Linked DNA regions of Homo sapiens. The protein of the gene in region 6 purifies or fractionates together with the protein of the main gene of each other region. This does not show direct contact. Each region holds a gene or a part of one and is shown on either strand. Other genes may lie near its edges. The genes, in order: PANK4, HEATR1, RABL3, PFKL, SUCLG1, BCL2L14 and FASTKD5.

Region 1 (3,953 bases), on a different chromosome or scaffold from region 6:
TCAGGGACCCCTCGGAATCACAGCAAACCGCGCCTGGCAAGGCAGTGACAGGAGTGCCTCCTGGCGGCTCTCCGGGCTGCCCGCGCTCGGCCCTGAGGCCAACAGCTGGTGGGGGAAGGGGGCTTCCCAGAGGTTTGGTCACCTGTGCTCTTCACATCTGAGCCATGGCCTTCTAGTTCTCCCTGTCCCACAGGCCCCATCCCCTCTGCCATTCTCTCTGGTCCTGTGTTTCCTCTTTGGGCACCAATGGAGGGCAGGACAGCCAAGCAGACACCACCGCCCCGTGGCCCCTTCCTGTCTCACCTGCCTCTGAGGAACCCTCCCCACAGCCCGCAGAAACCTAAAATCAGATCGAAGCTGCAGTATGTTTTGAGAAATACAACGTCCCTGCTGCTTTCAAAGAGGTGAATCTGCTCAGCAGACATCAGCGTCCCATCGAGAGGAAAACAGCTTGCCAGAACACAGGGCAGGTGAGCTTTCCTAGATCCAGACACAGGCAAGGGAAGAGGAAATGGGAGAAGCCTGCTTTTAAACAACACTGTTGACAAGCACTTTGGCTTTGAGGGTTCCTGGGTTGAAGACACCCCACCCTGAGCGTGGCCTCCCAGCAGCTCGGTCAGGAGTAACAAACAAAAGGTCTCTCAGTATCAGTCAACAGGTCCTCTTAAGAACCAGAGACACAGGACCCAGACGCAGGGAGAAACTTTGAAGAGGGGAAATAAATACCAGCACTAAACAGACCTCTTAGAGTATCCTTCTACCAAGAAACCCCCTGGGCTCAGCCTGGAGAACAGGCTGGTACTCCAGGGCCCTCTAGGGCTGCGACAGCCCTTCCTGGACAGCCCCAGCTCTGCGGCTTCACTGGCCTCTCGGGGCCACACAGAACATCCACGGTGAGCCCTGTTCTCCTGGCCATTCCCCAAGTGACTTATGCAGGTCAACTGCAATTGCATTTCAGAAACATTTAATCCCGACTTGCTTCCAGTAACAGAATCCCCCAGTGTAAGGGCAGCAGAACCTTGCAGAGCACACGCTCTACCGGGCCTCAAGGTCTCAGAAGGCTGGGAAGCATGGCTGGGGAGCCTCTGGTGAGGCCTGCGGTAGACAATCCCCTAGGCTAGGGCTGCAAGCTCAGCACCTGCAGCCCAATAACCAGTCAGTCCCAAGTCCTATCAGCGGTCCCTAAAGATGCTACTCACACGTTCTCATACCTGGCACCAGGCCACACCCCCTAAGAAGCATTGCCTCCCATAAGCTCACTGAAAGGTGGGAGCCAGGACCTATAGCTACTTCCATTCTCATCGCCCCCCACTTCCCTAGAGGACACCCTTCCCTGGCTGGACATCTCAGAGAGATGATGACACCAACAACCCCGAGGACACCACAGCAGCAAACATGTCAGATGCACCAGGAGCACACAGCTCAGAGGGAATGGCCTGGGTCTCTCTGAGTCCCAGCTTTTCCAGGGAGGTGGGAAGCAGTCAGCGGCAGGCCCATTCATCCCAGTATTTACTGGGCGGCAAAGACAGGTTGGGCATCCTTTTCGGGGGCTGGGGCTACAAGACACACCGCTGCTCTTGTGGGATTCACACACAAGCAGACTCAGCCTACGACCGAGATGAGTGCTAAGAGGGAGAGGTATGTGAAGCCGCAGCGGCTATTCAAGGGGGGTTTCTCCAGGTGAAGCTGCCCCCAGGAAGCCCTCATGCCTGAAACATGGGCAGAGTAGGAGAGCAGGGAGTGGCTGGTTCAAATCCTGGTTCTGCCACTTTCTAGCCCGATGACCCTGGGCAAATTAGTTCACCTTTCTGGGGCTTGGTATCCTCATCTGCGAAAAGGGAGTAATTCGCGTTCCTCCCCTAGAGGTGGCTGGGAGGTGTCCGGGAGTCAGGAGCGTGGGAAAAAGGTCTAGAACAGAGCCTGGCCCGCCGTCATTACTGAGAGCACAGCCATCAGGCAGGAGGGTCTGCAGCGGACCCTGGAGAGGCCAGGGCAGAAGTGCAGGCCGCCTTAAAGGCCACGGAAGGCACGGGTGGCTTTTAAACCAGAGGCACGAGTTCCCAGGTCCCACGTCCACGGCCGCCTGAACTCACGCCCGGCGTCCACTCTCCAGAGAGCGGGGCCTGTGCACGGACTGTCCGGCCCGCGGGCCACAGCTGGCCACGCCGCGGGAACGCGCGGCCTTTTCGGGGCCACTCTGCCAAGGGCTTCCCGCCGAGCTCGTCCTCGTCTCGACCAGAACTAAGGACCCCAAATCTCAGGCCAGCCACCAGCCAAGCGGCGGAGCCGGGGCGCCCAGATGCCGATGTGGCCGAAGACATAAAATTCCGCCGACCCTCCCACCTCGCGGCGGGTAACGCTGGACCCCGGCCCCCAGCCACCCAGGACGGCCGCGCGAACTACCAGGCCCGGCAGGCCCCGCTCTGGTCCCTGCGGCGCCTGCCGGTAGCTGTAGTCCGGCCGTCGCCCCGAGCCCGCGCATCAGCGACCCTGCGGACTACAAGGCCCGTGAGGCTGTGCGCGGGCCCGCGGACTACAAGGCCCGTGAGGCTGTGCGCGAGGCCCGCGCCCCCGCCCTTCGTCCTTCCCGCCGCCCCCGCTCGCCGGCCCACCGCCGGCGCCCCGCCCGCCCCCGCAGCCCGCGCCCGGCGCCCGGCCTGCGGCTACCTATGTCGATGGCGAAGCGCTTGGCGTTCTCCAGGTTGCGGAAGATCTCGTCGGGGGGCAGCGTGATGCTCTTGTCCAGACTGTCCCCGCTGCTCCCGCTGCCGCTCGCTCCACACTCCGCCATTTTGAAAGTGCCCGGCCAGCTCATCAGCCATGGAGATATATGCGCATATATTTGACTGCCAAACGCCCCCTCGCATAGATTATGTTAATGAGGCGCCGGCCCCGCCCCTTCCCTCCCCCACCCCCGGCCTCTGAGGTCTCGGCCGCTACAGGGCGAGCTAGGGCCAGTGCTGGGCAGGGGTCCGAGAGGCCCGGGGCTGCGGGCGGGCGGGCGGTTATCCTCCAGAGATCGCGCATCAGCACAGAACATCTGGACTGATGTTCTTTTACCGCGCTGTCCACAGGCTTAACTCAAGTGCTCTGAGCCCTGCTGAGGGAGGCCGCAGAGGCCGCCCACCTGCTTCTAAGGGGGCACGTGGGTCTGCAGACTGTCAGAGAGCCCTGCCCTTCAGCGAGTGCCTGCTGTAAGCTTGGCCCTGCACGCCAGGGCGAATGTGATGCGCTCTTTGCTAGGGTGACTCAATCCTGGCTTCCCAGGGGCGTGGGACTTTCAATGTTAAAAGTCCCATGCAAACCAGAGGAGTGGGGAACCCTGCCCCACCTGGGAGGAGCCCCAGCCTGGCATGCACCTGCGGGTAGGGAAGATGTGTGCTGTAATGGCGATCCGTGGAAAGTGCTGTGGTCGGGGGAAGCCAGGCAGGCTGCCTGTGGGCAAGACAGGTGCCTGGGAGGCTGCAGGAACAAGCCTTGGAAGCAGCTGGAGCCAGGACAGGGGTATAGGTGGGGCAGGCCAGGGTTCCAGGGTGAGTGGCTGGGAAGCCCTGCTGGCATGAAGAGATGCGTCTTCTCCAGAGGCTCTGGGCGCCTTGGGAAAAAGCCCAGTGTTGGAAGCAGACAGATCAGCCCCTCCCGGGTAACCCGGGGTCATTACTGCATGTCTCTGGCCCTCAGCCTCTGTCTGCACGTGGAGAATGCCACCAGCTGCCTGGCAGGGCTCCTGGGAGCACAGGCCTGTGGGGCGGCACAAACTCCAGGGATAATGCATCTGTGTGCGCAGGGCAAGCCTTCAGGGAGGAGGCATCCTTGCCTGTGTCTTCCAAGGGGGTGGGTGTGTGGCTCTGGAGGGGGAGCCTGCCCCAGGGAGGCCTGGGTGGAAGAGTGGAGCACACCCCAGGCGGCTTAGACCTCTGGCAGCTCAGACCCCTGGCAGCATGGTGTGCCAT
Region 2 (3,958 bases), on a different chromosome or scaffold from region 6:
ATCCCAGCTACTTGGGTGGCTGAGATCGGAGGATCATTTGAGCCCTGGAGATCGAGTGGGCCACGATCACACCACTGCACTCCAGCCTGGGTGAGTGAAATCCTGACACTCAATAAAATAAAAATAAAAAGACAGCCGTGTGCAGTGGCTGTGGTGGCTCACACCAGCACTTTGGGAGGCTAAGACGAGTGGATCACGAGGTCAGGAGTTTGAGACCAGCCTGGCCAACGTGATGAAACCCCATCTTTACTAAAAAAAAAAAAATACAAAAAATTAACTGGGCGTAGTGGTATGTGCCTGTAATCCCAGCTACTTGGGAGGCTGAGGCAGGAGAATTGCTTGAACCTGGGAGGTGGAGGTTGCAGTGAGATGAGATCGTGCCACTGCACTCCAGCCTGGGCGACAGTGCGAGACTGTCTCAAAAAAAAAAGACATACATATTGGGAGAATAAATAAAACAAAAATGTGTATGCTGTGATGTGACACCAATATGTGAGAAAATAAACTAAGCTTACTGAGACAATTCCCAAAGCAGATAAAAGATCAGACCTTGGAAATAAACTTCAGCTGTATCCTAGCTCTGCCACTTACTAGCTGTGTGACTCAAGAAACTTAATCCCTCTAAGCCTCAGTTTTCTCAACTGTAAAACAAGGATAATACAAATAATCTCACCAGAGGAATGCTGTGAGAATTAAATGAGATAATGCAGATAAAGTGCTTACCAGGGCCTAGTGTATAAATGCTCAAAAACACATTAGCTATCATTGTTTTTCTCAAGCAATGGTATTTCAGAGGATAACATTGCCTGCTTCCCCAACCATCTTGTTATTTTGCCAAGAAAGCAGCTTAGTACTCACTGCCTCAAGTGTGCAGGAACAAGCTGTAATGGCAAAGTAGCATGGGCTCTTCAGAACTAACGAGGTTAGGCTGGGCGAGGTGGCTCACACCTGTAATCCCAGTATTTTGGGAGGCCGAGGCGGGTGGATCACCTGAGGTCAGGGGTTAAAGACCAGCCTGGCTAACACGGTGAAACTCCATCTCTACAAAAACACAAAACTCATCCAGGCATTATGGCAGGTGCCTGTAATCCCAGCTACTTGGGAGGCTGAGGTGGGAGAATCACTTGAACCTGGGAGGCAGAGGTTGCAGTGAGCCAAGATTTCAATATTGCACTCCAGCCTGAGTGCCCAGCAAGACTCTATCTCAAAAAAAAACTAATGAGGTTAGACCATTTACTCAAAATCACCAGTAGTTCTACTTTTCACTATCAACAAAAAAGAATTTAAAGGCAGAAGAGCATGCTTATCTCACACAATGGACATTGTATCAATCTCTTAATATACCTAATTTTTCAGCTTTAATTTGATAAGTTCTCAACTACTTAATTTTTTACAAGACCAAAGTGATTAACCCATAGTTATTTCTGTAATTCTATTAGCTACCTGTGAATCAACCACTCCAGACACTTCTGTGCTGGCTTAAGCAGGAAGTAAGGCGACAAGTGAATAAGGAATAATGAAATGTTTTCATCCAACTGTTTGTTTACTGCTTTGGTCTGAACACTTCGCTCCAAGGTTTTTGCTAGCTGACTGAACAACGGTGCTTCAAACTGCTCAAAGGAAGGATCAATTCCAAGCAACTCTTCCAGGCCAGTACATCCTAAATTTCAAAAAAGGCCAGTTTATTTAACAATTCTTCGTAAGCAAATTCATCCCACCCCTCTTTTACAGTTTTACTTACCCCTAAGAAGTTTCTGAATTCTTTAAGTACATATAATTTATAATACAGTCCCAAACACTGATTTCTAGTTTTCAACTTTTAGAGTAAATCCTATCTCATCTACTAGAACAGAAAGTACTTCGTGGCAGGGAACACTTTTTTTTTTTTTTTTTTGGATATCCCCTACAATAACTAGGCCAGTCCTCTGAGAGGACTTCTCCGTCACCCCAGTCACTGCCTCCATCCCCCTTTTAGCTGTTCTTCTCTTTGACATATTAGTTGACCTCTCTAATTTTGTTTCTTCATCTGTGAAATCCAGATACCTCTACTCATAAACATTTCAAGCACCAAGCACCTGACTGTTATGTTCTCTTTCCCTTAAAAATATACATCAACATGCTAGAAACTGCTAAGGAAGAGGACGGGACAGAAGAGAAAACAAGGGGAAAAAAAAAAAACAGTAACATCCAGAAAACAAACGCTTCCAAGAGCTTTTCTAAGTTAAAAGATGGCTCACCAATGGCGAAGGCGGTGTCCCTGTCGATTGTGGCCGCTTCCTTAGGGTCAAATAACAAAGAAGCAACTTCATCTCTAGATAAGAGGCTGGCATCACTTTGAGGGAGGGCGAGTCGTTGCAGCTGCTGGGCTAAGGACGTCATCTTTCACGCCAGCGGAGTTTTAATGACACGGGCTAAAAAAACGTAAGCACTTTGATAAGTTTCTACGAAATTATAAGGCGCCTCGTAAACAAACAATTCTCTTCTGCACTCAGCACCGTCATGGACACACAACGCGGGTGTCCTGAGATTTGTGGACCCCGGAGATGCAAAGACGATGGCAGCAGCGTTAACAACTAATTACAGTAGCGGCGACCGCGCCAAGGCTTTCCTTCAACCCTGATTCCGCAGATATCCGGAAAACTCTTACCCTCCCTCGATATGCCGCCCCCATCCGCAGCCACATCAAGCGGCTCTGTGCCGCTTACCTGGAACTGGGAATTTGGGTATATCTTGGAAGGCAACAACTCTTCACAGCGCTTCCCACATGGTACCAAGGAGCCCAACCCTCACCCGGAAACCTAAGGCATGCTGTAGAGCAACTTCCTGCTGCAGGCGCTACGGCAAGTGAAGAGGTTCAAGCTTGCCGGGAATGCGACGAGACAGCTCCGCCTCCCGAGACGAAAGCCCGCCCCTCAGCCCGCCGGACTCAGGCTCAAGTCTGAGCTTCGCCTCTGTAGCTCCGGTTTAGCGGTCTGCTCTGCGGCTTGTGTCTGAAGCTTTCGGTCTCTGGATGGGCCTTCTGTGGGCTTTAAGGATCCGTAGCCAGAATCATTCATTCAGTAGTGATCCAGCCTTTACTAGGTGCCAGCAGCACCGCGTAGTGTTGAAAGCTATGGGTTGTGAAGTCACGTGGTTTGGGTTCAAATCCTGGCGCTGGCGCCTGTCGGCCGGGTTAACGCCACCAAATTATTTCATCTCTCCGAGCTTGTTACTCACTCTACAAAGTGGGAAGAGGCCGAGATTGTCGTGAAAGGAGCTTCTGCTCCTAGTGCAAACCGATCTATAAATGCTGGACTCCACCGCCCCAGAGCTTGGGGGAGATCTTGTCACTCCTCTATGTTTCCATTCCCGAGGGGTAAATGGCATATATTTTTTTCTTTCAAAACGAATCATAGTCAGGCGCGGCCTGTAATCCGAGCACTTTGGGAAGCTCAGGCGAGCTGATCACCTGAGGTCAGGAGTTCGGGACCAGCCTGGCCAACATAGCGAAACCCCGTCTCTACTAAAAATAAAAGAATTAGCCGGACGTGGTGGCGGGCGCCTGTAATCCCAGCTACTAGGAAAGCTGAGACAGAAGAATCGCTGGAACCCGGGAGTCGGAGGTTGCAGTGGGCCAAGATTGCACCACTGCACTCCACAGAGCGAGACTGTCTCAATAAATAAATTAATCGAATCCTGTTGAGGTATAATTTACAAACAATGGTTACACCCACGTCAGTGGAAGAGTTTGATGACTTTTAGCAAATGCATGTATAGGTGTAATGACCTCCCCAGTCAAAATGACAGTTTCCATCGCCCCTAAAAATTGTCTCTTGCCTGTTTGCGAAGATTCCCGCAACCACTGGTCTTGGCCTCACTACAGATAGTGTTGCGGAAGAGTATCCTTATGTATGAATATAGCTAATCTGTTTCCAAAACACCGGTATGCGCTAGAACTAGGATGAACTGACGTCTTCCA
Region 3 (3,500 bases), on a different chromosome or scaffold from region 6:
CCCTCTCTAATAGCCTAGGCTAGTAATCCTTCAGAAGGAAATAATGAAGTGTCTTTACTTCTCTCCCTTAAGATTAAGATATATTATCATATCACCCTGACTCCTTTCATCTCAGCCCCACCTTGATTCTTCTAGCACATGTTCTACAAAGCAATAACTCTCAGCCCAAATGAAAGAGAAAGAATAGGGGAAAAGGGTACTCAAATGCCCTTAAAAGCTCAAAAGTCTTACCTAAAGATCCTCAGTAAAGTCTTCCCTGTCCATCTAATAGCCAACTTAGGCCTTTGTAATTCTTTTACTCCCCCGTCCAAAATTCTCACCCATAGTTTTGCCATATTTATAGCCTGGGGAAAAGGAAAGGGAGAAAATATATGCCAGTTTTTTGCCCTAAAATGGAGATTTTATTCTGCTTACCACCAGTCTTTACTGTCAGATTACCTGAGTGCAAATTCTGACTTACCATGTGCCCAAGGACAAGTTACTCTACTTCTCTGAACTTTAGTTTTCTCTTGTGTATAAAGATAATAATAATTCTTCATAGGACTGTTCTGAAAATTAAATTAGATAACACATGTAAAGCACAATATTTAGTACATTAGTACTGAATAAATATTAGCTGTAGTCTTTAATGGTGGTTCTTTATTCCTTTTTTTAAATCTGTGCCACTGATGCTGATTAAAACCCCTCATTGAGGAAGGAAGAGTGGGTACAATTGGATATTAGGGCAAGTGTCAGATCTCTATTAGTTTCAGACACCAGAAGAGATGCAGGTTTATCTAAGCTGGCTGGAACAAGTCAGCTATAGCTTGTACAAGCCCTTTAGTTACACAGATGGCTATAAAAACTGTAGAAGCCAGCTAATTCTACCTCTTCTGCTTTTCTTTTTCAAATTGACACATACCACCTCTTGAAGATGGAGGAATCATTGGTTTCATGTCCTATTCACAATCTGGGTAATATAGAAAAGGGTTGGGAGTTTGAAACCTGTAGTGTTTTGACCATAAGGTGATATCCTAAATTCTAGTGGGCATCAAAGTTTTTCCTCTTTTGTCTATATCTTGCTGTAATAATTAATTCCCTGATTTTCCTTTCTATCTAGGATTTTAATTGATTCTCTTCAGTTGTATTTTAGTGTATTTCTGGGCCTCGTTACATTTTGTTATTTTTCTCAATCTATCAAAATCCGTGCATGTACTTTCTACTATCCATACTTCTTTACTATTTAATGTCTCACCCACTCTCTTATAGTGGCATATTTCTTTTGCTCTAATAACTAAATCTCTTACAGGTAGGAAGCTTACATAACTAATCATTATTCAAAGAACTAGAAAATTAGACATTTGAATAGATTAGTCTCAGATGATCTACAGGACACTATTTTGTCAGCTAAAGAATAGCAATTGTATCAAATCAGTACTATTTTAGTAGATTTTCATTACCTAATATTACTTTTAGTGAGTATAAGTAATATATGTATGTACTGGTATCTATGGCAGTACTGTGTACAGTGAAGAAACAACATAACTTTTTGAATGAATAATTTCATATGTACTTGAAGTAGTTTTGATTCTCTTGATTAATAAAGTGGTTCTACAGGTAGGAACAGGCATGGAGTAGGCACTCAGGAAGTGTTGAATGAAGTAAAGATCTGCTAAAAGTTTAATGGGATTTCGTCAGCCCTTGTAAAATAAAGAGTTATAAAACTGACAGAGAAAGGTTTATGGCTATTTATAAATATTTGTAGAGAAAATTTTAAAATAATTGTCTCTGAGTTGTTAGTCATACTAGAATGCTAGATTCATTAAGCAACCTAATGCTTCTGTTTACTAAGCTTCATTTGGCCAATTGTGAAATGAAGAGGAATTGTTAAGGGATTAACATTGTTTTCTCTGATTATTTTAGGTATTATTTTCGTACACGACTTAACAAATAAGAAGTCCTCCCAAAACTTGCGTCGTTGGTCATTGGAAGCTCTCAACAGGGATTTGGTGCCAACTGGAGTCTTGGTGACAAATGGGTGAGCCAATTTCACAATTGGTTTGAAAGATTGTAGCAATCACAGGAATGTACTTCCCTGAATAACACTTTGTAAAATGTTTGATTTGCAAAGATTTTTCTTTCAGTGTATAGATTATCTTTTCCTTTTAACAGTATCTTTCACAAAGCAATAGTTTTCATTTTGATGAAGTCTGATTACTCTTCTTTTCTTCTATGGATTGTGCTTTTGATATCATGTCTCAGAACTCTTTGCCTAATCCTAGATGATGCAGGTTTTCTCTTATGTTTTCCTCTACAGATTTTATGGTTTTACATTTTTATAGTAAAACATTTATATAAAACATTTTAAGTTTTATAGGTTTGCATTTAGATTTATGATCTAAGTTAGTTTTGTACGAGATGGGAGGTTTTGGTTGAGGTTAACGTTTGCATATGAATGTCTAACTATTCCAGCACCATTTATTGAAAAGATATCCTTTCTCCATTGAATTGCTTTTGCTCCTTTGCCAAAAATCAGTTGACCATATTAGTATGAGTCAACTTCTGGACTCTAGTTCTGTTCCATTGATCTATGTGTCTGTCCCTTCACCAGTACTACGCTGTCTTAATTATAGTCTTAAAATTGAGCAGTATGATTCCTTCTACTTTATTCTTTTTCATAATTGTTTAGCTATTATAGTTTATTTGTTTTTCCACATGAATTTTTAGAATCAGCTTGTCTATATTGACAAAAATTTTGGTTGGATTTTTATTAGAATTGCATTGAACCTATTGATCACATTGGAGAGAATTAACATCTTTATTCTGTTGCATCTTCCAGTTCATGAACACAATATATCTCTAAATTTATTTAGATCTTCTTTTATTTCTCTTACCAGCATTGTGTAGTTTTCAGCATACAAATCCTGTGCATGTTTTATTAGATTTATACCAAAATATTTAATATTTTTTAAGCTATTGTAAATTGTTTTTTTGTTTTGTTTTGTTTTGTTTTGAGACTGAGCCTTGCTCTGTTGCCAGGCTGGAGTGCAGTAGCACGATCTCAGTTCACTGCAACCTCTGTCTCCCAGGTTCAAGCAATTATTGTGCCTCGGCCTCCCAAGTAGCTGGGATACCTGGCTGATTTTTGTATTTTTGGCAGAGACAGGGTTTCACCATCTTGGCAAGGCTGATCTCGAATTCCTGACCTCAGGTGATCCACCTGCCTTGGCCTCCCAAAGTGCTGGGTTACAGGCATGAGCCACCATACCTGGCCATAAATGGTATATTTAAACTTCAGTTTCAAATTTTCCATTGCTAGTATAAAAAAAAATAGAATTGATTCTGAGTGCTGACCTGTATCTTGTGACCAGAGTTTTTTAGTACAATCCTTAGGATGCTCTACATAGACAGGTTTATTTCTTCCTTTTCAATCTGTGTGCTTGTTGTCTTATTTCTTGCCTTTTCGCACTGGCAGCAACTTCCAAAAGGGTACTAACTAGGAGTGATAAGAGTGAATATCT
Region 4 (3,500 bases), on a different chromosome or scaffold from region 6:
GCGGATGCCAGCTCAGCTGTGGGCTTCTGCTCCTCCCTCCGCCTTCTCCCCAACCAGGTGTCAGGGCCCTGGGGGCCAGGAGGGCAAGTGCCTCAAGCAGGCAGGGGGTCAAGGGATAGTGCGCGCTGCGGGGCGCATGAACATCCCCACTCTGGCCATGGCGGGCTTCTAGCCTGACAGCCTCCCTTCCCCACCAGCTGGGCTGGGGGACAGGTGCCCCTGCCCCATCTCAGGGGCTGATCTGAGGGACCACAGAGCTACTTCCTCCGGCTCAGGCCAGGCCAGCCTGGCCCCCTCTGGTTGTACCAGCCCTGAGCTAGGAACAAGGAAAACAGGAAAATGATCCCAAACCCACAGCCCCACCTGAGCAGGAGGCCACCAAACACAGGTCTGTCTGCAAAACTCAGGATCCAATACAGAGCCCAGGCGCCAGCCAGGCCCCTGCCCCACTGGGCGGAGGGGCAGGCAGGTATGGCCAGCCCAGCAGTCCCCAGAGACCCCACAAGGCCAGTGGCTCAGTTCTGCTGGAATCAGTCTCACAGACACAACCTCCTCCTACCCTTGGAATCTTCTAGAAGCTGTTTGCCCCCCTCTACCCACTCTGTTTCCGTCTCTGTCCTCCTAGGCCCAGCTCACCTTCCCCTCCTTCCCCTCTAGCCCCGCCCCCTCCTCTCACCCCTGCAGGCCTGGACCCAGGCTCAGGGCCCTCCCTGCTATGCTGTGGGCTCTGCCTGGGGGGATAAGAGTAGCCTGTTCTGAGCCCTCCTTTGTGTCAGAACTGAGAAGGGTTTTCACCTCCAAGGCCACCCTCCCTTTCTGCCCTAACAATAGCCCCAAGGAGAAGGGATCGGTCTCCCTGCTGAAGGAAGCCAGCGCTGGGGGCTCAGAAACCCAAAATGCAGTCTGATGTGAACTGACGCAGCCGCAGGTCTCCCTGACCTCCCCCTTCTGCCTCTCGACCCTCTGCCTCCTCCAAGCTCAGGATGCAGCTGCTCCCTGAAGCCCCCGAATCTGCCTAAAGCCCATAGCTGCTGGAGAAAGGAACAGTGACGGCCAGTCCCCTCCCTGAGTTTCCATGCACTGAGGTCATCGTAGGAAGAAAGACCTGTGTCTGCCAACACACTTGGGCAGGTGGTCACCAGGGCTAACAGATGCTGTCCAAGCCCATTGAATCCCCTAAAAACCATTCATGGCCGTGCACAGTGGCTCGCGCCTGTAATCCCAGCACTTTGGGAAGCAGAGGCGGGTGGATCACCAGAGGCCAGGAGTTCGAGACCAGGCTGGCCAACATGGTGAAACCCCGTCTCTACTAAAAATACAAAAAACAGCTGGGCGTGGTGGTGGGTGCCTGTAATCCCAGCTACTCAGGAGGCTGAGGCAGGAAAATTGCTTGAACCTGGGAGGCAGAGGTTGCAGCGAGCCAAGATTGTGCCACTGCGCTCCAGCCTGGGCAACAGAATGAGACTCTGTCTCAAAAAAAAAAAAAAAAAAAATTCCTACCCCCCTAGAATCATCCAGGCTGCCCATGCCCCTTTCCCTGGGAGGAGGGCAGGTCAGCATCTTCGCCCTACCTCTCCATGCCTATTCACAATGAATGCCAGCACCTCTGCCCTATTAATCCGCTTTTCGCAAGTGGATTCTTCCAAGAACCTTCATGGGACGGAGGGGAAGTCTTCCCTGGGCCGCTATATCAGAATGTCTCATCTCAAAATCTGCCTCTTAGATGTGGATGTTTCTGAGCTAAAGCCCACTAGGCAGCAGATTCAGGGAAGCTCTCAGCCTTGCCTCCCTTTGAGAGGAAAGCAGCACACAGCATCCCAAGACTAAGGCTCCTCCTGTTACCGCCTGGACAGGATGTAAATGCCCCTCACAGCCCTCAGGACCCAGAGACAGCCCCAGGACCCGCGCCCACCCACTTCATTCTTTTTCCCATAAACTCACCCTCCTGCATTCCCCCACCTCCGAGGGCCTCACGCTGCGTCCCTGTACCCCTCGGCTTCTCCATGTGCACTGGTCTCTGCTGGGCTCTGCAGAAGCCAGGACTCTAGGCACGGCAAAGTGCCTCTTCTCCCCTTTTCCAGGACACGCCCTGCACCGATGAACCTGTTTTCTGTCTTTTGCCACAGGAGTCTTTCCCAACCACAAATGTGTGGGGGTTCCGGAAAACCCTAATTTCTCCCCTTTGCCACTTAGAAGAAGAAACTGAAGGTCGAGCAGGTGGCAGGAGGGGTTTGTACGGACACAGCCCAGCCTGCCTAGAGAGGCCCCCACACCCAGCTCCCCAGGGCTCTGAGACCTGCTTCCTAATCCAATACTGGCAGGGCCCCAGCCTGGCCACAGGGAGAGGACGGGCCAGCACAGACTGCCCACTCACTCATTCATTCACACAGTCCTGCAGAGGGAGGGCTGGACAGGCTGCTGTTCCCTGGGGCCAAGATGGGGGAACTGAGACCCAGGGCGGTGAGTGGTCAGCAGCGAGCAGTGAGCAGTGAGGGGGGTGGGGCTGAGTGCCTGGGGCTGCAGAGCTGGGGTTGCTACATTTTATATAAACAGCTACATATTACATAAAAAGTGGCAACAAAATAACAAAAGACCTTGTCTTGTGGAATGTGGAAAACCACCTGACAAGGCAAGAATGCAGCCTGTGAGTGCGTGGTGTGGCCCAAGTGTGTGAATGCGCCTGTGTGTGCACATGTGTGAGCGCAAGTGTGGGTGTGTAAATACCCAGGACGGAGGGCGAGCCCCAAATCTCCCACGGGGACTGGGGCTGAGGCAGTAGGGCATCCGCTGCTCCTGCGGGGACACAATGAACATAGACACAGCAGAGCTGCTGCCAGCGGCTGCCCCCCGGGTCTGGGTGGTGAGGCAGGAGGCTGGGGAGGACAAGGGCAGAGGCGGTGAGGTCCCTGGCCCCCACTCACAGAGGCCTCGGGGCGGGACAAGGGCCAGGCTGGGGGACACCAGGCAGGGGTGTGGTGGGTGGGGCCTGGCCCGTCAGCGATCACTGTAGGCAGGGCCTCGACTCCTTGTCCACCCAGCTCCTTCCCTGCCCCCAGGCCCGTGCTCTGCAGCCTCTGAGCCTCCAGCCGGGCTGAGTCCCAAGGCAGTAGGTCTTCTTTCTGCAGATGCCTTTGGCCTGGCCCCAAGCTCCCCCTCACACTCCCCAAGACCACATACCCATCAGCTCCTCCAGGCCAGGACCACCCCGTCTCCCAGTGTGACCCACACAGAACACACCTCGGCATGCGCCTCAGGAGGTCCCCACTCCCTGCACACACACAGCCCACCTTGGCCTTACCTCGTAGATGAGGAAGACTTTGGCACCCACATAAATGCCCATGCGCGTCACAGCCCGGACAGCAGCGTTCATGCCTGTGGAGGTCAGGGCAAACCTGTCAGTCCCACGCTGAGAAGCAAGGCCCTGGACACCCTCCCCATCTCAGAGGACAGGGGGTAGGGGAGGCCTGGACACCCTGTCCATCTCAGAGGGCGGGTGGTGG
Region 5 (2,626 bases), on a different chromosome or scaffold from region 6:
GGGACCTCAAATTCATGACTCTGCTGGTAAATGGTAAATGGCTTGGGCAGGGGAAAGCCCACCATTCATCTTAGGAAAACCAACACAAATATTAAACCATGATTGAAACCACTGCATTCTCCTTTGAGTTAACTTTCCATACAAACTCAGGAATACAACACTGTGCCAATGTCCGTATCTGTTCAATATAAAACTTCCACTTCACAAATACACATGACGCTATCATTTGAAAAGTAAAAGAGCATACTGGAAAATATGATTTGCGATAATAATAATTTAAGACACAAGACTGGGTTGCTTTACTTCAACCTAATATTATGCCTTAATTCATTATTAGTTCACCCTTAATAAATGTGCTAAAAGAAAAAGATGAGGTGGGAAGTATACTGGAAAGGACCTAGGACTTAATTTTCTAGTAACAAAAGCTGCACGACCTTGGACAAGGCTTCTTGAGAACCAGACTTCTGCTTCCTCATCTATGAAATGAAATGGCCAAACTGGATTGATGCCCAAAAGCCCTTTCCACTCTGGAATTCTGTGTCTAAGAGGGAAGATCAGAATTGGTTTTATTCAGCAAAAATCCATTCTAATGTACAATCTCTATATACTAGATTCTGAGGTTTAAAAAAAAAAAAAAAGAAAATATAAAAATGTCTGTACTCTAGACATGCAAAGTAGTTGAAGAAATAATATAAAATATGTATATACCTCAATCCATTAAGAGATACCATAGGCCAGGCATGGTGGCTCAGGCCTGTAATCCCAGCATTTTGGGAGGCCGAGGCGGGCAGATCACGAGGTCAAGAGATCGAGACCATCCTGGCCAACATGGTGAAACCCCATCTCTACTAAAAATACAAAAATTAGCTGGGCATGGTGGCTCGCGCCTGTAGTCCCAGCTACTCGGGAGGCTGAGGCAGGAGAATCGCTTGAACCCGGGAGGCGGAGGTTGCAGTGAGCTGAGATCATGCCACCGCACTCCAGCCTGGCGACAGAGCAAGACTCTGTCTTAAAAAAAAAAAGATACCATAAACTAATATATGAATATATGATTAAGTTTCATAATTAATGGTAATATCATGTTCATAACAGAAGTCCAGAGATAATAAGGAACCAGGTAAAACAGAGAGGACTGAAAAGGCAGAACTTGAGCACAAGTGGAACCTGAGAGCTTTCACTTAGGTACCATCATCTTCCCCTAGACCAGCAGTTCTCAGATCATTTGGTCTAGGGATCCCTTATACTTAAAAGAATTATTGACGATCTCAAAGAGCTTTTGTTGATATGTATTATATCTAATGATATTTAGTATATTAGAAATTAAAACAAATTTTATAAATATTTGTTAATTCACTTAAAAATAACATTTTAACACTTTAAAAACCATTCTAGTGAGAAGAGTTGCGTTATTTTACCACTTATATTTTCAACTCTTGAATGTTTAACTTAATGAAAGACAAATGGATTCTGATAAATGCTTTTGCATTCAATCTGTTGTAGTGTGTTATTTAAGCTGAAGTATAAAAGGAAAATCCAGCCTCACACAGATATGTAACTGGAAAAGGCAGAAGTATTTTAAATGACTGCCTTACAGATAATTGGGAGTATTCTTCTTTGATACTAACCAAATCTCTCAAGTGGTAATTTCTTACAGGTTAGGTGCAATGTTGGAATCTGAAACCATAGCAGTGAACTTTCTGTCCCTTGTTAATTTAAAACTCATTAATCTGTCTTGCACTTTGAGTGATCTTTTAACCACAGTGATTTTGTAACATGCATTCCTCAGTTAGGAAATATGTATGGGTTCACTGAGTTATGCAGATCTTCCAAATGCTGACATGTTTCATCATTTAATAACAACAAATCAGTTATCAGTATCACCATCAAGCTCATTAGAAAAGCCTCTAGGTAGGAGGAAGCTGTCAAGCTCACAGTTGCAGATGCAAATTTTCTAAAATTTTAAATATTCACTTGAAAGTTCAAATGTTATTATTAGCAACAAATACTATCAACTGTTTCCCTTGACACAGCAGGTTTACTTTGTTCATTATTGAGAAGAGATCTGTCTGAATTACCAGTTCGTCTGCCAGTCATTCTTTCAAGTAAAATTGGTGTCCCATGAAAAGGGCAGCTAGTTCAGCTCACAACTCAATTGTGACAATGCTTTACTTCCCATTTTATCACAAAATACTGACTCCAGGGTCATAATTTAATAAAATTAATAATTTGCATTGCTTCATCAAGGACACTCATAAGTGAAACTGGCTTTTTTTTTCTTTGCACTGTGAGTAGTACATGGCAGTGAATGACTGCTACTCTGGTTCGACTGACTGCCCTGATTCCCACTAAGATGCAGCATGCAAGGAGCTACATGGTCAGACACTGCTTACTCCTGCCTCATCTGCCACCTTTCCTCCCTTTCTCCTTATCTTCCAGTAACCCCAGAATGCTCTAGCTCTGTGCCTTTGCTGAGAATGCTCTCCACCCTCCTTGGATGCTTGGCAAACTCCTACTTAACTTTTAAGATCTGACTCTAGCTTCCTCTTCCCCATAAGCCTTTTCTATCTCTCCCTCCCACCCTCCCCACAAATGCCCTCATAGGTGATCATCTCATCAGTGACCCTGT
Region 6 (3,500 bases):
ACGCTTACCCATCCACCGTGCTGCTGGATCCATGGCGAGAAGTTCTCTTTCAGGTACTTGGTGCCAAAGCCCAGGACCCTGTTCATCGGGTGGTTGTCAATAGCTGTGAGCTTGGCCGTGACGTCTATTACAAGGGCAGCCTTAAAGCCCTGAGCTTTGACCTCTGATTCTCCCCTGGGGTCCACACCCATTAGGACCTGGTCTGTGATGGTCTTGAAAACAGAGTAGGACAGCCCATCCTGGAAGTGGCCCATCAAAGCCTTATCTTTCTTCAGCTGTGTACAAAAGAATAAGCACTCAGTACAGTAGCTTGGCTCCACGAGGCAGACAGAAGTTCATTCTTTAGCTCAAATGCAGGCCATCAAACCATCCTGTGGAAAACCCTGGATGCTGGTGTCAACCAAGGGAATGGGGATGAAGGCAGTGTCCTGCAGAACCAGAATGGGCATGTACTGCTCGGTGAATTCATTTCATCAGCACAAATACATGTATAAAATGGAACAGTCAGTTCATTTGACATTTAACAAATATTTCCTGAGCACTTATAATGGGCAGGTAGTATGGATGACTGAGATGCGGGTCCTCACTCAAAGGGCTCACAGTCTAGTGGGAATTGCAGAAAAATGTGATGTCCTTTGCTAGAAGTAGTGTAAGGGACAGGATCTGAAGCTTAGGAATCACTGTCTTGGCTCAAACCCCTGGGTCCACCTCTTACTTAGCTATGCAATCTTGGGGAAATTAACCTCTCAGATTCAGTTTGTCATCTCTAAACTAGGATGGTGATAGTATTGATACTATAGGGTAATTGTTTTCTTTCTTTTTTTTTTTTTTAAGACAGGGTTTCACTCCCATTGCCCAGGCTGGAGTGCAGTGGTGTGGTCTCAGCTCACTGCAACCTCTGCCTCCTGGGCTCAAGTGATTCTCTTGCCTCAGCCTCCCAAGTAGATGGGACTACAGGTGCATGCCACCACACCTGGCTAATTTTTTTCTATTTTTTTGTAGAGATAGAGTTTCGCCATGTTGCCCACTCCTGGGCTTAAGCGATCCACCCACCTCAGCCTCCCCAAAGTGTTGGGATTACAGGCATGAGTCCCTGCACCCAGTCTTCATTTTCTTTTCTTTTCTTTCTTTCTTTTTTTTTTTTCTGAGATGGAGTCTCACTCTCTTGCCCAGACTGGAGTGCAGAGGCGCGATCTCAGCTCACTGCAACCTCCGCCTCCCAGGTTCAAGCAACTCTCCTGTCTCAGCCTCCCAAGTAGCTGGGATTACTGGCACACACCACCACACCCGGCTAATTTTTGTATTTTTAGTAGAGACAGGGTTTCATCATGTTGGTAAGGCTGGTCTTGAACTCCTAACCTTAGGTGATCCACCTGCCTCGGCCTCCCAAAGTGCTGGGATTACAGGTGTGGGCCACTGTGCCCGTACCCAGCCTTCATTTTCTTAAGAAACTTTTATTATTATTGTTTTTTAGGGACAAGGCTTACTATATTGCCCAGGCTGGTCTCAAACTCCTGGCCTCAAGCGATCCTCCCACCTCGGCCTCCCCAGGAGCTGGGATTACAAGTGTGAGCCACTGTGCTTGGCCCTATACTATAGGGTAGTTGAACACTTTATAGTGCTGGACATAGAAGAGGTGCTTTGGAAATGCGAGTCATTTTTCAGGATGCTACGGGAGCATGGAGGTCAGGGAAGACTCCCTTGCATGCAATGTTCACTTAAAAAAACTCCAATTCATTGATTTCTTTCCCATTATTCTACCCTATTGATTTTACCTCCCGGCCTTCCCTTGAACCTGGTATCTCTCTGCTTTACCTCCTTTGAACTACCACGCCTTTAAAACAAAATCAATGCTGCCTCTTCTGCTTTTGAAAAATCAGGGCTCATATCAAAAAGCTATATATCATCTTCATTTAAAGCATTCTTGCAATGTCTGTTAATATGCTGGTTGTCATGTGAAAACGGAAATTTCTGAGTGAGCAGGGACAAAATATTTATTTGAAAATCCTCTAGTTCTGTCCTAGAGGAATGATAAGCCAAGCGGGTTTTCAACAAATATTGTTTCTAAAAGGGATATCTGGGGGATGAGTCAGATGCGATTGGGAGATTTTGGCAGACCTGTCTTTTCCCTGAACCACGCCCACCCCCACCGTCCAGGCCCCGTCTGGGTTGTGACTCTGCAGGAGGCATGGCCAGCCTCCTCCATAACAGGGAACAGACTCCTCTTCATCAGTTTCCCAATGGAGGAGGCCAGGCTCAAAACCCTAGCAGGCAGCCAAGTGGGGACTGTGCCAGAACAGTAAAAGAATCAAACGCCACAAAGACAGGGCTTCCACTGGCACCTCCTCACCCCTCCCCTGCCTGTCCCTCTCGGGTGCACCTGGCTCTTTGGCCTCTCCTGGAGGTGTAGGATGGGCCTTCGGGCTGTGTGTGCTCTTGGGACCAGCGGCTCTGCAGATCCCCTGCAGCCACACACACGGCACTCTGCAGTGGGAGCTTGGCACCCGCCCAGCACAAGGTCACACCTACCATGTGTCTCTAGCAGAGCTCCCTACTGGGGAAGCATGTAAAGGAAATAACAACCAAGGCTTTGCCATAAGCAATGTAAAATGTCCAAACTCCTTAAGAGAGAGCACCAGGCAAAGTGAGGTTTTTGAAAGTGGTAATTTGTGGGGGTGAAAATGAAACCATCGCTCTTCATAACCTGAGATCGGTGGCCTTCGTCCCACCTCCAGCACCCCCACTCCGCCTTTCCCACCTCCCTGACCAATGACCACAAGTCCCTGCTTAGGGAAGCTGGGAAGGAGGTTGCCGTGAGAGCCACAGAAACTCTGAGTTGTAAAGAGCCCTTGAGGTTGTCTAAAGGACCCCTCGGAGTTCTGTGCTGAAATGCTAACTGGTATTGGCACCTACTTGCAATTCTTCCCGTGACAGGAAGATCATTCTCTCACAAGGCACCCGTTGACTCTCATGGGCAGCCTGGAATGCCTATTCTCCAGGAATGGAGGTTCATTCTTACCATAAGGAGAAATCAATCACCCCATACTAGGCATAATTTGTGTATCCATGACACTAGCTCTGGAGAAATGCAGGGGTGCCCTTAAATCATGATCCTGTTCCATCTCTTGCTTCCTCTGCACCCCTCTCCACCCTCTACTTGTGGTCCCAAAGCTCACACACCCCGTTCTCTTTTCTTTAACCTAATATCCCTGGTTTTCTCGCTGTTTCTCATTCTGTCCCATCTCCCAGGTGCTTCGCCCTCTGGGTCACCAGCCTCTGGGCACACTTTTGACAAAGCTATAGACAGGAGCTGTTTGTCTTCCTGCAGAACCTCCCATCCCCACCCCCAGGGTCTGACTCCCTCCCCACAGATTCTGGAAAAACAAGGGTCTATGTCTGCAAGCCAGCCCCTGATTGACAGATTCTAGAGACTACTCAGTCGTCTGTGGGTTATGGACCCAGGAGGCATAGAGAAGCCCTTTTGACTCTGTTGAAGGTTT
Region 7 (3,500 bases), on a different chromosome or scaffold from region 6:
AAAATTACCCAGGTGTGGCAGCACACACCTGTAATCCCAGCTACTCAGGAGGCTGAGGCAGGAGAATCCCTTGAACCCAGGAGGCAGAGGTTGCGGTGAGCCAAGACCGTGCCACTGCACTCCAGCCTAGGCGAAAAAGTGAGACTCCATCTCAAAAAAAAAAAAAAAAGATTTAATTAGTTATACCTACGATAACCCTCCCTGTTCTTATAGCGCAAAACTGTTAATTCCAAAATTCTGTCATTCTAATGCTGTTCTTTTACTTTTTAGAAGATGCCTACTCTCCTCTTCAGGAAGCTTATAACAGAATTTGAGTCACTATTAGAGAGTAGTCACAGAGTAATGGTGTTATTAGAAAGTATACTAAAAAACTCACTCATTTTGGTGGGAGAAAGCAGAAGGTTGAGGGTCTGCTCACTGTCACTTCACGGGTGGGAAGCAAAGAGTACCCCAAAGCTGGGCTCAGGGTTCAGGGAACGCCAATTGACGCAACTGCCCCGCTGACATCTTCTGGAGAAGGCAGCTTAGCAATGTTTCCAGTGAGTCTTTATTCTGCCTGTGAGCAGTATAATGCCCATTTTTCTCCCATGGCAGAAACCATGAGAGACTATGAAATTGATTCTGCTGTGCTCTCGCTTTCCTTAATGCTTATTCTTTTTCTTTCCACTTAAGTGCCAAAGCCTGACAAGCAAGACCCAAGGAGACCTGAGTTGTCAACTGATGTACCAGACAGGGCTGTTGCTGCAGAAAACTCCATAAAAGTTCCAAGGGTGCCAGAATGACTTTCTGAAATGCCTGCCTAACTCTGCTGTCAGCCACTTTCTTCCAGAGCCCATAGCACATCATCATTTAGTTCATCAAAGAACAGCAGGGCAGGTCAGTGGCTCTGTTCCAGTAGCCCAGCTACACAGGCTTCTCTAGATGGCAGGAACATATGTATGAATTTCTGTGTGAATCAGAGCAGAATTCTCTCACATTAAATTTTTATACACTTGGTTCTTTACTGTGGCTTGTGGACCATTCTTTTTTTCTTTTTTGAGACAGTCTCACTCTGTCACCCAGGTTGGAGTATAGTGGCATGATAACTGCAGCTTTGACCTCCCACTTCAAGCAATCCTCCCACTTCAGCCTCAGCCTCTTGAAGTAGCAAAAACTACAGGTGCACACCACCAAACCCAGTTAGTGTGTGTTTGTGTGTGTGTTTGTGTGTGTGTGTGTGTGGAGATGGAGTCTCACAATGTTGCCAAGGCTGGTCTCAAACTCCTGGGCTCAAGTGATCCTCCTACCCTGGCCTCCTGAAGTGCTAGTATTACAGGCATCAGCCACCATGCCTGACCACCTGTGGACCATTCTGCCCACCAAATTTCAATCTGTGGTTCAGATCAAGGGTGAGCAGACTATGTCCTGGGGCCCAAATCTAGCTCTTCACATGTTTTTGTAAACAAGGTTTTTTCAGAACATAGCTAGGCCATTCATTATATATTGTCTATGTCTGCTTTCCTGCTACAAGAGCAGAACTGTGTAACTGTGGCAGATTGTATGGCCTGCAAAGCATATTTAGTGTTTGGTCTATTACATAAAAAGTCTGCTGATCTCTGCTACACACTATTTCTATAAATGCAGATAGCCAGCTTTTTAAAAATTAGAAAAACTTGGCCACGCCTATAATCCCAACACTTTGGGAAGCTGAGGCAGAAGGATTGCTTGAGGCCAGGAGTTTGAGACCAGCCTGAACAACACAGCAAGACTGTCTAAAAAATAAAATAAAATAAAAAATAAATTAAAAAAATAAAAAATTTTAATTAAAATTGGAAAAACTATAGAAAAATAGTACTAAAATAATGTTTTTCTTTAATATTTAGATGATAATTGAAGATTACAGTCCTCAAAATAGTCATTAGGAAATCCAATTAATACTACAGCACAGGAAAGGTGGGAACAAAAGAGACAGCAGGATGGCCAGGCGTGGTGGCTCATGCCTGTAATTCCAGCACTTTGAGAGGCCAAGGCAGGCAGATCACTTGAGGTCAGGAGTTCGAGACCAGCCTGGCCATCATGGTGAAACCCTATCTCTACTACAAATACAAAAATTAGCCAGGTGTGGTGGCATGAGCGTGTAATCCCAGCCACTCGGGGGGCTGGGGCACAAGAGTCGCTTGAACCCAGGAGGCGGAGGTTGCAGTGAGCCAAGATGGTGCCACTGCACTGCAGCCTGGGTGACAGAGACTCTGTCTCAAAAAAAAAAAAAAAAAAAAAAGAACCAAAAAAACAGAGATAGCAGGTAACAGAACTCTCCAGCTGACAGAACAGGGCTTTTAAGAAGACCTATTTTTGGCTGGGCACAGTGACTCATGTCTGTAATCCCAGCACTTTGGGAGGCTGAGGCGGGTGGATCTATGAGGTCAGGCATTCGAGACCAGCCTGGCCAACATAGTGAAACTCTGTCTCTACTAAAAATACAAAAAATTAGCCAGGCGTGGTGGTGGGCGCCTGCAATTGCAGCTGGGGCACCTGCAATCCCAGCTACTCGGGAGGCTGAGGCGGGAGAATCACTTGAACCTGGGAGGCAGAGGTTGCAGTGAGCTGAGATAGCGCCACTGCACTGCAGCCCGGGCGATAGTGCAAGACTCTGTCTCAAAAAAAAAGAAGAGGAAGACCTACTTTCGAATTTGGAATTTAATTTAATCCACCACAATGTGCAACTAAAGCCATATACTGTTCAAATCTGTAGTCTTCATCTCATTTGAGGAAGGAGATCCTGGCCAGGCACAGTGGCTCACACCTATAATCCCAGCACTTCAGGAGGCCAAGGTGGGCGGACCACTTGAGGACAGGAGTTCAAGACCAGCCTAGCCAATATGGGGAAACGCCATCTCTACTAAAAATACAAAAATTAGCTGGGCGTGGTAGTGCGCCTGTAATCCCAGCTACTTGAGAGGCTGAGGCAGGAGAATTGCTTGAATCCAGGAGGCAGAGGTTGCAGTGAGCTGAGATCATACTACTGCATTGCAGCCTGGGCGAAAGAGCAAGACTGTCTCAAAAAAAAAAAAAAGTAGATCCTAAAAAAATAGATTTAAAGGTCCCATTTTTTAAATAAAATAGCTGTGCCATAGTAAAGCGAAAAACAGAAAATGTCTGTCTAGAAGGAGGCTGGTTTACAAGATAAATGTGTGGCAGGCATCAACACATGAAAAAGTACACACTAATATTGAGTGGAACAAATAGCACATAAACAAGAATTAACAAATATCTCTATAAATGATATTAATTTTAAAACATTAAATAATTAAAATTACTTCAATTAATTCTACCTAAGAGTACTTAATGAAATTACTATACGTGGTCTGGAAATAAAAGAACCATCTCCTAGAACATCAATGTTTGGTGCAGCTCCAGTGTTTTGAATTCATGTGACACTTTTTGATTTGTAAAAACACAGGCTAAGATCCAAGATGGAAATAACCAGAGCTATGCCTTAGGGCCTCCTCTGTGCCAAGGCT

The links.
Region 1: the proteins of BCL2L14 (region 6) and PANK4 purify together in Homo sapiens (affinity purification with mass spectrometry, with the first as the bait; one large-scale study listed by BioGRID). This does not show direct contact.
Region 2: the proteins of BCL2L14 (region 6) and HEATR1 purify together in Homo sapiens (affinity purification with mass spectrometry, with the first as the bait; one large-scale study listed by BioGRID). This does not show direct contact.
Region 3: the proteins of BCL2L14 (region 6) and RABL3 purify together in Homo sapiens (affinity purification with mass spectrometry; one large-scale study listed by BioGRID and IntAct). This does not show direct contact.
Region 4: the proteins of BCL2L14 (region 6) and PFKL purify together in Homo sapiens (affinity purification with mass spectrometry; one large-scale study listed by BioGRID and IntAct). This does not show direct contact.
Region 5: the proteins of BCL2L14 (region 6) and SUCLG1 purify together in Homo sapiens (affinity purification with mass spectrometry; one large-scale study listed by BioGRID and IntAct). This does not show direct contact.
Region 7: the proteins of BCL2L14 (region 6) and FASTKD5 purify together in Homo sapiens (affinity purification with mass spectrometry; one large-scale study listed by BioGRID and IntAct). This does not show direct contact.

Annotation. Positions count from the first base shown.
Region 1 is NC_000001.11:2,523,797-2,527,749, forward strand, and holds the start of PANK4 (4'-phosphopantetheine phosphatase), read right to left. Parts: upstream 2,801-3,953; 5' UTR 2,792-2,800; coding exon 2,668-2,791; intron 2,397-2,667; exon of another isoform or gene 1,805-2,396; intron 1-1,804. UniProt on the Homo sapiens protein: Phosphatase which shows a preference for 4'-phosphopantetheine and its oxidatively damaged forms (sulfonate or S-sulfonate), providing strong indirect evidence that the phosphatase activity pre-empts damage in the coenzyme A (CoA) pathway.
Region 2 is NC_000001.11:236,601,717-236,605,674, forward strand, and holds the start of HEATR1 (HEAT repeat-containing protein 1), read right to left. Parts: upstream 2,801-3,958; 5' UTR 2,706-2,800; intron 2,412-2,705; 5' UTR 2,380-2,411; coding exon 2,238-2,379; intron 1,661-2,237; coding exon 1,444-1,660; intron 1-1,443. UniProt on the Homo sapiens protein: Ribosome biogenesis factor; required for recruitment of Myc to nucleoli. Involved in nucleolar processing of pre-18S ribosomal RNA. Required for optimal pre-ribosomal RNA transcription by RNA polymerase I.
Region 3 is NC_000003.12:120,704,517-120,708,016, reverse strand, and holds part of RABL3 (rab-like protein 3), read left to right. Parts: intron 1-1,902; coding exon 1,903-2,017; intron 2,018-3,500. UniProt on the Homo sapiens protein: Required for KRAS signaling regulation and modulation of cell proliferation. Regulator of KRAS prenylation, and probably prenylation of other small GTPases. Required for lymphocyte development and function. Not required for myeloid cell development.
Region 4 is NC_000021.9:44,306,553-44,310,052, reverse strand, and holds part of PFKL (ATP-dependent 6-phosphofructokinase, liver type), read right to left. Parts: intron 3,373-3,500; coding exon 3,299-3,372; intron 2,794-3,298; coding exon of another isoform or gene 2,725-2,793; intron 1-2,724. UniProt on the Homo sapiens protein: Catalyzes the phosphorylation of D-fructose 6-phosphate to fructose 1,6-bisphosphate by ATP, the first committing step of glycolysis.
Region 5 is NC_000002.12:84,425,655-84,428,280, forward strand, and holds part of SUCLG1 (succinate--CoA ligase [ADP/GDP-forming] subunit alpha, mitochondrial precursor), read right to left. Parts: intron 1-2,626. UniProt on the Homo sapiens protein: Succinyl-CoA synthetase functions in the citric acid cycle (TCA), coupling the hydrolysis of succinyl-CoA to the synthesis of either ATP or GTP and thus represents the only step of substrate-level phosphorylation in the TCA.
Region 6 is NC_000012.12:12,091,439-12,094,938, reverse strand, and holds part of BCL2L14 (apoptosis facilitator Bcl-2-like protein 14), read right to left. Parts: intron 429-3,500; coding exon of another isoform or gene 348-428; exon of another isoform or gene 276-347; coding exon 9-275; intron 1-8. UniProt on the Homo sapiens protein: Plays a role in apoptosis.
Region 7 is NC_000020.11:3,149,866-3,153,365, forward strand, and holds part of FASTKD5 (FAST kinase domain-containing protein 5, mitochondrial), read right to left. Parts: intron 1,003-3,500; exon of another isoform or gene 673-1,002; intron 1-672. UniProt on the Homo sapiens protein: Plays an important role in the processing of non-canonical mitochondrial mRNA precursors.